2 linked regions of the Homo sapiens genome follow. The protein of the gene in region 2 purifies or fractionates together with the protein of the main gene of each other region. This does not show direct contact. Each region holds a gene or a part of one and is shown on either strand. Other genes may lie near its edges.

Region 1 (7,311 bases), on a different chromosome or scaffold from region 2:
GGGAGAAAAACTTGTCAGGATGGCAAGATGTACAGAGGTTGAGATCTTGGTTCTGGTCCTGAATATTCTGTGGAAGAATTCCTCCCTGTTCTAGAAGAATCCTTAGGAAAAATATTTTTCAAAAGAGAGCAAGAGTTTATTTTCCCAATAGCCAAAGCAATATGAAAAAAAGTATGGATGTTGGCATGAAAAAGTTCCAGGAAAGATGTACCTAGAACAATGTATATTGTTATTCACTTACAGAACATGGACTAGTCAGGGAAAAAAATGCTACACTTTATCAGCATTTATCACCTAAGTTCATATATGCACAGTACAACCTTCCATATTGTCTTATAGACATAATCTAGGTACAGAATTTTATAATCAAAATCAAGTGCTTATTTAAGAAGAAATGTCTACAAAAGTTACCAGGATATCAGGCAAAATTCACCTGGCTCAGCCAGAGTATGCTTTTTAGTCATCTGGCCCTTCATCTCCTTTCCTTCTATTAGCCAGATTTTTCTCAGAAAACTTGCTTCTCCATGAACACTTTATGATATGAAATATGACTACAAGTTAGTGATACTTGATTTTAAAAGTCACATTTAAGAATCAATTTCAAACTTTTCCACATCTGTACTAAATGAGGCAGACTCTGGGTAAAGTTTTGGCGACTGGAATAGAAACATGATTTAAAACATACATTAATTTGCCTTTGTAGTAATGACAAATAATTTTCACCAGTTATTAATAACAAAACCTTGTAAATTAAAAGATGCGAAGAACTGTAAAAAACTTAAAAGTAAAAAACCGTGTATTTATATTATCTAATATTTTTTCTAAAAAACATATTCCTCTAGTTAATTAGATAATAAGAATAATTTTAAAATATCAGCTTCCTGATAGTTCATTACATTTAGGAGAATTTAGCTGAGGAATGGCTGTGAAGTAAAGTACACGCCAACTTTTCTATATGAAGTTTAAGTAGATCTCTTAAAATTAAATGCCAAATATTTCTTCCTTCACTTTTAAATCAATGAAAGATACCAGACAGGAAAATTTCTGTTATTCAAACTCAAATGAAAACAGATTTCATATTTAAAATGAGTGTTTGTGTACATGTGCATGTCAGCTGCTTAAATAACCACCACCTAAATTCTTCTTAGAGTTATTAATTGTTCTCCAAAATAAATTTCATTTTAGAACAATCAGAAATAATCAAACTTGCAGTTGAATGAAATCAGACATACCTTGTGGCTTTACGGATGTCGATACAGGGATTTGGTGAATCAAATAGTTGTACACATGCAGGATGAAGATTATGAAATGCCTCTGCTGATTCCCTTGGAAGAGTAAAACAGCAAGGTCCTACTGAAGGTCCAAGTACAACAACAATGTCTTCCAAACTGCAGCCATATTCTGCTATCATAGCATTCACTGTAGCCATAGCAACACCCAACAAAGTACCTTTCCAACCTGGTAAATAGGAATAAAAAGAGATAAGAGAAGTCAAAACATAAAAAATTTCACCTGAATTTATGTCTAAGTTAAAAGTGAGCAGATTTAGTTTGTATATTTTTCAAAGTCCAGAAATAATAAATTACATTATCATGTGGTTTTTAAATGAGCCATACTACACAAAGCACCTGACACAGAAGAGACATGTAATGGGAGTTTTCTTCATCTTCCATTTAAAGATGCTCTATACTTTTAGTTTCCACTGAGATCATAGCTTCTTAGTCTTCTATTTTTCACATTTTAAAAGATTGTGGTTAAAAACCCACAAAATTTACTATTATAACCACAAAAAAATACTATTCTAAGTATACAGTTCAGTAGTGTTGAACTCACATTGTTGTATAACCAATCTCCAGAATTTTTTCATTTGATAAAATGGAAACTCTACAACTATTAACAATAACTCCTTGTTTCTTCCTTTTACCAGCCCCTGGCAATCACCATTCTTCTTCCAGTTCCTGTACATTTGATTACTGTAGGTATATCATATAAGTGAAATCAATACAGTATTTATCTTTTTGTGACTGACTGATTTCACTTAGCATAATGTCCTTAAGGTTCATCTATATTGTAGTATGTGTCAGAATATCCTGCCTTTTTAAAGCTAAATAATATTCCATTGTATGCACACACATTTTGCTTATCCATTCATCTACCAATGTACCTTAGATTGCTTTCACCTTTTGGCTATTGCGAATAATCGTGTTATCAACATTGGTGTGCAAATATCTCTTTGAGTTCCTGATTTCAGTTATTTTGGATATACTTCCAGAAGAGGAATTTCTGGATTATATGGTAATCTATTTATAATTTTTTGAGAAATTGCCATACTGTTTTCTATAGTGGCTACACAATTTCACATTCCCACCACCAGTGCACCAGGATTTCAACTTCTCCATATCCTCAACAACACTTATTTTCTGAGGTTTTAAAATATTAGCCATCCTAATGGATGTGGGGTGATATTTCACTGTGGTTTTGATTTGCGTTTCTCTAACTTCTAATCCATGAACACAGAATTTCTCTGCATTTATTTGTGTCTTCTTTAATGTCCTTCAGCAATGTTTTGCAGTTTTCATCTCTCCCTTTTTACAAAAATATATCTATTATATTTCAATTAACAGCCTCTTTTTACTCCCTTCCCACTTGCCCAGACTATCGTTCCCTTGCCATCTTTGTCTTATCTGCCTTGCATCTTACAGTGTTCTAAGATAAAACCATCTTCTTTACTTATGCTACCTTCTTGTTGCCAAAGACAGAAAGCTAAGAATATTGCATTTTTCCTTTATTCCCTATATCTGGGTTTGATTCAGCTGATATGGTTGGCCAATAATGAGTACCCTTACACCTTCCTTAAGCACTCCATACTCATACCCTTCAAAAGGTAGGCACTCAGGTGAAGGGATCAATTTTTACAGATAAAAGGAGATGATGAAAGCAAGAAGGACTTAGGTGACAGGTTCAGCCTCTACAGGTAACCCACTGAATATGTGGTTATGGGAAGTACAGAATGAAGACATCAAGTTTCTATCTGTAAGTGGGTAGGATATCAATAATTAAAACAGGAAACCTAACTGGCAGAGAAGACTTTAGGAAAAAAATGTTGAGTTTTTGACATAATGATTTTCAGGCACCTAGGAAGATGCAGACAGTGATGTTCAAAGGGAAGCAACTAGATATAGGCATTTTGAGTTAAAGAGAGAAACTGTCAGGGCTTTTCTACAGATGAGAGTAGCTCTCTTCCTCAGTGAGCCTCCTTAGTTATCCTCTCACTTGTAGTTCATCCACCTCCTTTCTATTTGATTTTTCTATGCCTATCTATATATACATATCTAGTTAAAAGATCTTTATTAAATTAGTCCCATAGAAGAATTTTATTCTTTTTGATATCTGATAAAAGTAGTATACAATGTAGCTAATTATATTATATTTTAAAGTTAATTTATTTTTATTCTTCCAACTTTTTAGGTTCGGGGTACATATATGCAGGTTTGTTACATGGGTAAATTGCATGTCACTGGGGTTTCGTGTACAAACGATTTCATCACCCAAGTAGTGGACATAGTACCGAACAGACAGTTCTTCAGTCGTCACCCTCCTCCCACCCACCACCCTTAAGTAAGCCCCCATGTCCATTGTCCCTTTTTTTGTGTCCATGTGTACTCAATGTGTAGCTCCCACTTAAAGGATACATATGGTATCTGATTTTCTGTTCCTGCATTAATTCATTTAGGATGGCTTCCAGCTGCATCTATGTTGCTGTAAGGATATGATTTCATTCTTTTTTATGGCTTTATAGTATTCCATTATGTATATGTACCATATTTTCTTTATCCAGTCCACCACTGATGGGCATCTAAGTTGATTCCATGTCTTCATTATTGTGAAAAGTGCTGTGATGAACATACGTGTGCATGTGTCTTTATGGCAGAATAATTTATATTCCTTTGGGTATATACCCAGTAATGGGATTGCTGGGTTGAATGGTAGTTCTAATTTTAAGTTCTTTGAGAAATATACAAACTGCTTTCCACAGTGGCTGAACTAATTTACATTCCCACTAGCAGTGTGTAAGCATTTCCTTTTCTCCACAATCTCACCAACATCTGTTGTTTTTTGACTTTTTTTATAACAGCCATTCTGACTGGTATGAAATGGTATCTCATTGTAGTTGTGATTTGCATTTCTCTAATGATTAGTAATATCAAGCGTTTTTTCATATGCTTGTTGACCACGTGTAAGTCTTCTTTTGAGAAGCGTTTGTTCATGTCCTTTGCCCATTTTTTAATGGGATTGATTGTTATTTGTTTGTTGATTTAAGTTCCTTATAGAGTCTCGGTGTTAGACCTTTTCAGCTGCATAGTTTGCAAATATTTTCTCCAATTCTGTAGGTTTTCTGTTTACTCTGTTGATAGTTTCTTTTGCTGTGCAGAAGCTCCTTAGTTTAATTGGGTCCCACTTGACTATTTTTGTTTTTGTTTGCTCTTGAAGTCTTCACCATGAAATCTTTGCCAAGGCCTATGCCTATGTCCAGAATGGCATTTCCTAGGTTTCCTCCTAGGGTTTTAATAGTTTTAGGCTATATGTTTAAGTCTTTAACCCATGTTGAGTTAGTTTTTGTATATGGTGAAAGGAAGGGATCTAGTATCAATTTCCTACATATGGCTAGCCAGTTATGCCAGCACCATTTATGGAACAGGGATTCCTTTCCTCATTGCTTGTTATTGTCGACTTTGTCAAAGATCAGATGGTTGTAGGTGTGTGGCTTTATTTCTAGGTTCTCTATCCTGTTCTATTGGCCTATGTGTCAGTTTTGGTACCAGTACCATGCTGTTTTGGTAACTGTAACTTTGGAGTACAGCTTGAAGGGAGGCAATATGACTCCTCCAGCTTTATTCTTTTTGCTTAGGATAGCTTTGGCTATTTGGGCTCTTTTTTGGTTCCATGTGAATTTTAAAATAGTTTTTTCTAAATCTGTGAAAAATGACATTGGTAGTTTGATAGGAGTAGCATTGAATCTATAAATTGCTTTGGGCAGTGTGGCCATTTTAACAATATTGATTCTTCCTATCCATGAGCATGGAATGTTTTTCCATTTGTTTATATTATCTCTGCTTTCTTTCAGCAGTGTTTTGTACTTCTCATTGTAGAGACCTTTAATCTCCTTGGTTAAGGTAACTGTATTCCTAGGTATTTTATTCTTTCAAAATTAACTTATTAATGACTTGAAATTCACATTTATAACTTCATTTTGACTGCTTGATCTTGGATATGTTTAAACTAAATGTTTTCGAACCTAAGAAGTAAAAAAATAATATCCTCTTTTTATATCCAGGAGCCAAGACTCAAATTTTAAATAACTTTTTGACAATGTCATGTAGTAAACCTGACTTCTACTCATTCAATCCCATTATTTCAGCTAGGTCAAAATAAAAATATGCTACTTTCTTTTTTACCTATGAGCTAAAAAGCAAAGTAGCCATAGATTTACAAGTAGAAGGAAATTTTAAAGATCATCCCTCATTTCACACAAAATCACAGCTATGGGGTAATCTAAAATACTATTTTAAAATACCTTCAGAAAACAAAATTCCATATCCTTAACACAATATACCTTCTAAAAATACTTCTTTGCTCTCAGAGAATAGTTACAGTTAAATACATTAAGTGATGTAAACTAAAAACAGTTTTCAAAACATCTTGCTTTTTCCTACCTCCCTAGCTTTACACATGCAGCTCCATCTGGGTGAACACTTCTCTGCAACATGCCTAACATTCCTATTTCCTATGGCCTGGATTTCAAGGATTCTCAACCAGAGGCAGTACCACTCCCCTAGGGAGTGTTTTGAAAAGCTTGGAGGGTTTCGTTGTTGTTTGATTGGTTGGTTGGTTGGTCTTGGTTATTACAGTAACTAGAGGTGCTACTGTCATTAAGGATTTCAGGGGCTAAAGACACTTAATCTGCAATGTGGGATTATCCTGCCCAAAATGTTAATAGCACCCTTGCTAAGGAACACTGTTACCCAGCCAAAACCAACAAATTCCTCAGGAATCAACCTAGGTGCCACCTCCTTTGGGAATTCTACTATAATTCATATAATTTGATGCAGATACTCCTCTTAGCTGTCCCTATAATAAAACTATGCCGCCTCTCCCATCATTACACTTACCACAGTGTAATGTAATTAACTGTTTGCCATGTCCATCAGAAAGAAATTACAATTTTTCCTGCACAACAAAATGAGTAAAATTCTAAATGTTTAATTAAGTATACTTACCAGCGTGAGCAACCCCACATGCTTTTTTGACTGGATCTGCAAAAACTATCGGTATACAGTCTGCACCAAGAGCTGCTATTGTGACTCCTCTCTGATTTGTGGTTATTCCATCATAAGAGTCAGGCTCCTTTCTTCCCATAATCCAGATGTCATTGGAATGATGAGTCTAATACCAAAAATGTGCAACAAAAATGTTTTGGAAATAGTATTTCTTATACCATAAGCTTTCTCGAAGGTACTCATTGTAGTATAAAATTATATAACCAGTTTAAGATTACTAGCATTCATTAAATATATCACTTTTATATATGGGAAAACACAAAATTTACTTATAATTTAACTATTTAAGATTTTAGATTATAATCTCTGATAGTTTATGCAAAGAAAAGCAGAGTTTAACATTATAAAATTCAATATAGTGAATAATGAACATCTTTCCATAAAGATAGGTATATCATTTCTTATAGCACTTTCTACAAAATGAAAATTTTTCTTGTAAAGGAAAGTTAATTAACAAATCAATGATACTTTTACTTTTCCAAGACTCAAGTAAAGCTAGAATTCTGTAAGGAACAAGACATTATCTCATCAACTATGACCCTAGTTCCTCCTGGAGTAGATTTATAAAATAATGGCCTTTCTCTACCACCATTCAGTTCCCTTTCTTCTAAATCAAAAAGAGCAGTGGTAGTATACTCTCTGAGAATTAACTGTACTTTTAGAATTGAGGACTCCAGATGAAATATACAGTAGGCTCTTGAATAATGTCATTTTATTCCACATCATTTCATTATAATGTTAATGAAAAAAATTGATTACCCACCCGGTCACTGACTGTGTGAGGTTTGCACCTTCTCCTCACGTCCACATGGGTTTTCTCTGGGTACTCCAGCTTCCTCCCACATCCCAAAGAAGTGCATGTTAGATGAATTGGGGTGTCTACATGGTCCCAGCATGAGTACGTGTGTGTGTGTGTAAGGGCACCCTGCAATGGAATGGTGTCCTGTCGAGGGTGGGTTGTGGCCTTGCATCC
Region 2 (4,153 bases):
TCATGTGTATGGTGCTCCTCATGACTCGTCTTGTATTTTGCCTTTCTGATACCCATCAGAACTGCTGCTGCTCTAACTTATACTCTTTACCTTGCCCAGATCTCCGCGTAAGGAATGCTTTATGATCAACTTGCCATAGGACTGATGGATTAACCAGTGTTCGGCTTTATTTGAAGTCTATGCCCTGCACAGCTCTTGTATGTATTTTAGATGCTAGAAGTTTTTTTAGCATGTGATGTGTGATTCTTGTTTGAATTCTAGGTACCTTGTGAATTCCAGAAAAAGAGACTGTGCTTCACGATTGTTAGTCCCATGAACTTGCACTATCTATCTTTCATGGTGATGTTTTGAAAATACAATCAGGAAAAAACCCAACACCTTTGGAATTTAAAATAGAATCATATCATGAAATTTAAAAAGAATCTCTTCTGTTGCATTTCCTCACCCCTAAGTAACAGCTACATTTAAGTAAAATGCAGGTGGTAGGGGAAAAAAAACCATGGCGAGATGGTGGTTTAGTGGAATAAACTGATTACTGGTTTTTTTGTTTTTTTTTTTTTTTTTAAAGAAAGAAGCTTCATCACAGATACTTTCCAGTTTCTCTTTTATACTTTTTTGAAAGATTACTTTTTAGGAACATTTGGTATGATATGCATAAAATTATTTATCCATTTATGGGCAAAATGATACAAGTAGCATCTTGATTGAACATCATTTACCTCAGATATTCAACCAGCAGTACGTTTTTTATGCAGTCTCAACCCATATCCCATTTGTTACCTCTCAGAATATTGGTAAGCAGTTATTTTCGCTTTACTCTGTATTTCTTGTGTTTTGGGCACAGGTTATTGTACTACTGTCAAATCGTACTTGCTATTTTTTCTGCAAGTATTTAACAGAAAGCTTAAAATCCCCATAAAACCCCACCTTGGATAAGTGATTGTTAAATATTGTACAAATAAAATGTATGCTATCCCCATTCCATCCCCAAGTTAAATAAAAAAATGAATACGGTATGATTTGCATATGCAGTTTTTCTTTAGCTATGTTTTTTTTTTTTTTTATACTTTAAGTTTTAGGGTACATGTGCACATTGTGCAGGTTAGTTACATAGGTATACATGTGCCATGCTGGTGCGCTGCACCCACTAACTCGTCATCTAGCATTAGGTATATCTCCTAATGCTATCCCTCCCCCATCCCCCCACCCCACAACAGTCCCCAGAGTGTGATATTCCCCTTCCTGTGTCCATGTGATCTCATTGTTCAATTCCCACCTATGAGTGAGAATATGCGGTGTTTGGTTTTTTGTTCTTGTGATAGTTTACTGAGAATGATGATTTCCAATTTCATCCATGTCCCTACAAAGGACATGAACTCATCATTTTTTATGGCTGCATAGTATTCCATGGTGTATATGTGCCACGTTTTCTTAATCCAGTCTATCATTGTTGGACATTTGGGTTGGTTCCAAGTCTTTGCTATTGTGAATAATGCCACAATAAACATACGTGTGCATGTGTCTTTATAGCAGCATGATTTATAGTCCTTTGGGTATATACCCAGTAATGGGATGGCTGGGTCAAATGGTGTTTCCAGTTCTAGATCCCTGAGGAATCGCCACACTGACTTCCACAATGGTTGAACTAGTTTACAGTCCCACCAACAGTGTGAAAGTGTTCCTATTTCTCCACATCCTCTCCAGCACCTGTTGTTTCCTGACTTTTTAATGATTGCCATTCTAACTGGATAAAATACTGGCAAAACGAATCCAGCAGCACATCAAAAAGCTTATCCACCATGATCAAGTGGGCTTCATCCCTGGGATGCAAGGCTGGTTCAATATACGCAAATCAATGAATGTAATCCAGCATATAAACAGAGCCAAAGACAAAAAACACATGATTATCTCAATAGATGCAGAAAAAGCCTTTGACAAAATTCAACAACCCTTCATGCTAAAAACTCTCAATAAATTAGGGATTGATGGGGTGTATTTCAAAATAATAAGAGCTATCTATGACAAACCCACAGCCAATATCATACTGAATGGGCAAAAACTGGAAGCATTCCCTTTGAAAACTGGCACAAGACAGGGATGCCCTCTCTCACCACTCGTATTCAACATAGTGTTGGAAGTTCTGGCCAGGGCAATTAGGCAGGAGAAGGAAATAAAGGGTATTCAATTAGGAAAAGAGGAAGTCAAATTGTCCGTTTGCAGACGACATGATTGTATATCTAGAAAACCCCATCGTCTCAGCCCAAAATCTCCTTAAGCTGATAAGCAACTTCAGCAAAGTCTCAGGATACAAAATCAATGTACAAAAATCACAAGCATTCTTATACACCAACAACAGACAAACAGAGAGCCAAATCATGAGTGAACTCCCATTCACAATTGCTTCAAAGAGAATAAAATACCTAGGAATCCAACTTACAAGGGATGTGAAGGACCTCTTCAAGGAGAACTACAAGCTACTGCTCAAGGAAATAAAAGAGGATACAAACAAATGGAAGAACATTCCATGCTCTTGGGTAGGAAGAATCAATATTGTGAAAATGGCCATACTGCCCAAGGTAATTTACAGATTCAATGCCATCCCCATCAAGCTACCAATGACTTTCTTCACAGAATTGGAAAAAACTACTTAAGTTCATATGGAACCAAAAAAGAGCCCACATCGCCAAGGCAATCCTAAGCTATGTGTTCTTAAAGAGGGGAGTGGTAGCTTTGTAACTTACAGTGAGGCTTACACCTTGACAACTGCAAGAATGAGGATAGTGGTGAGTGAAGGGAGATTTGTTAATTATGGCATTTCCCTCTATTATCGTCTAAACAGATTATATTCCCACTAAAGTATGTGTGTTGGTCCTGCCAGTATTAGAAACCAGAGGCTTGTTGGCATTGTGTCACACAGTACACACCAATGGATTCTCAGATTTTCTAGGGTAAAGGTGAAGGATGGGGCAGCACTTAGGTTATGGTGGTTTGAAAGAAACTGAATTGCTTTCTAAACCAGATGAGGATCAGAGTGCGAACCATGGTGAAATATGCATGGAAACTACAGAAAGACTGAAGTGTTTCTTACGGTGTTTTCTGCAAAACGTGATTCATTAGGACATTAACAGGTATTACGTTTTCAACATATACAGCATTATGATACAGTAAGTTTGGACCAAACAGGTATTCATTCCCCAGAGCCTTTCACATGCACGAGAATCAGTCATTTTAACAAGAATTCCGTTTCTGCTGGGCCACTTGGATCCCTTGGATTCAGATGTAAAAACACACTGAAATATTCCTCCTTTCACCTGCTTTTCAGTTTGAGGTAATCAGATTGAAAAGCAGGAGTTCATGCATTTTTTGGTTCTATTTTTCCTCCTCTAGTAAATGAAGAAAATAAGCTATATGTATAAGTTTACATTATTCTTGAACCGCTTTTTAAACTAGGGTTTTTCATATTTGTTTTTATTGATGACAATTAAAGCAATTTAAGAGACGAAGTTAGCTCAAAACTCTTGCGAATAGATTTTAGCATTTTTGTATGAGGGAATATGGAAAGGCCAACAAGCAGCACTGTTCCTCCCCACAAAAATGCCTTGGGAATATAATAGGCGTACACTTCATTTGTGTAACTTTTCCTAATGTATTTTTTTTTAATTTGCTTTATAACGGTTTCATGTTTACCTCAATTGGTACTTAGTCTTAAAATCTTTCTTTATACTTGGTTATTGATGGATCTTCTGCAGCTCTTATGTAGCCAATGAGACAGATGAGGGCTGTCAGCTTTTAAGTGACATCTTAAGCTAATAAGAAATTGGAATCCTCAAGTCATTTCATGAGGCTGTTACCCTTTAAGACAAATAATACTTTCCTCAAATAGTTCAGAAAATTTTTAAAAGGATCACTTAGAGCATAAGTGTAAAATTCTTGCTTCTAGTATATAATAGTGATGTTACCATGTCAAGTATTTTGGTGAAATATCCCCTAAAAATGTGTAGACTACGGCACAGATTGAGTATGCAAGCCTTAGCTTGAATGAGACTGCTGAGAAGTAAATGACAGGGATCTGAATACTTAGCAGGCTTAACTTTTTGCAGGGAAGGAAAGGCTATGTATGCAAAAGAATAGGTTGTAACTACTGAAGAGCTAC

What was found.
Region 1: the proteins of ORC4 (region 2) and LACC1 purify together in Homo sapiens (affinity purification with mass spectrometry; 3 studies listed by BioGRID and IntAct, with this or other methods). This does not show direct contact.

Annotation. Positions count from the first base shown.
Region 1 is NC_000013.11:43,882,904-43,890,214, reverse strand, and holds part of LACC1 (purine nucleoside phosphorylase LACC1), read right to left. Parts: intron 6,445-7,311; coding exon 6,279-6,444; intron 5,297-6,278; coding exon of another isoform or gene 5,247-5,296; exon of another isoform or gene 3,425-5,246; intron 1,459-3,424; coding exon 1,233-1,458; intron 102-1,232; coding exon 1-101. UniProt on the Homo sapiens protein: Purine nucleoside enzyme that catalyzes the phosphorolysis of adenosine, guanosine and inosine nucleosides, yielding D-ribose 1-phosphate and the respective free bases, adenine, guanine and hypoxanthine.
Region 2 is NC_000002.12:147,929,809-147,933,961, forward strand, and holds the end of ORC4 (origin recognition complex subunit 4), read right to left. Parts: 3' UTR 588-4,153; downstream 1-587. UniProt on the Homo sapiens protein: Component of the origin recognition complex (ORC) that binds origins of replication. DNA-binding is ATP-dependent. The specific DNA sequences that define origins of replication have not been identified yet.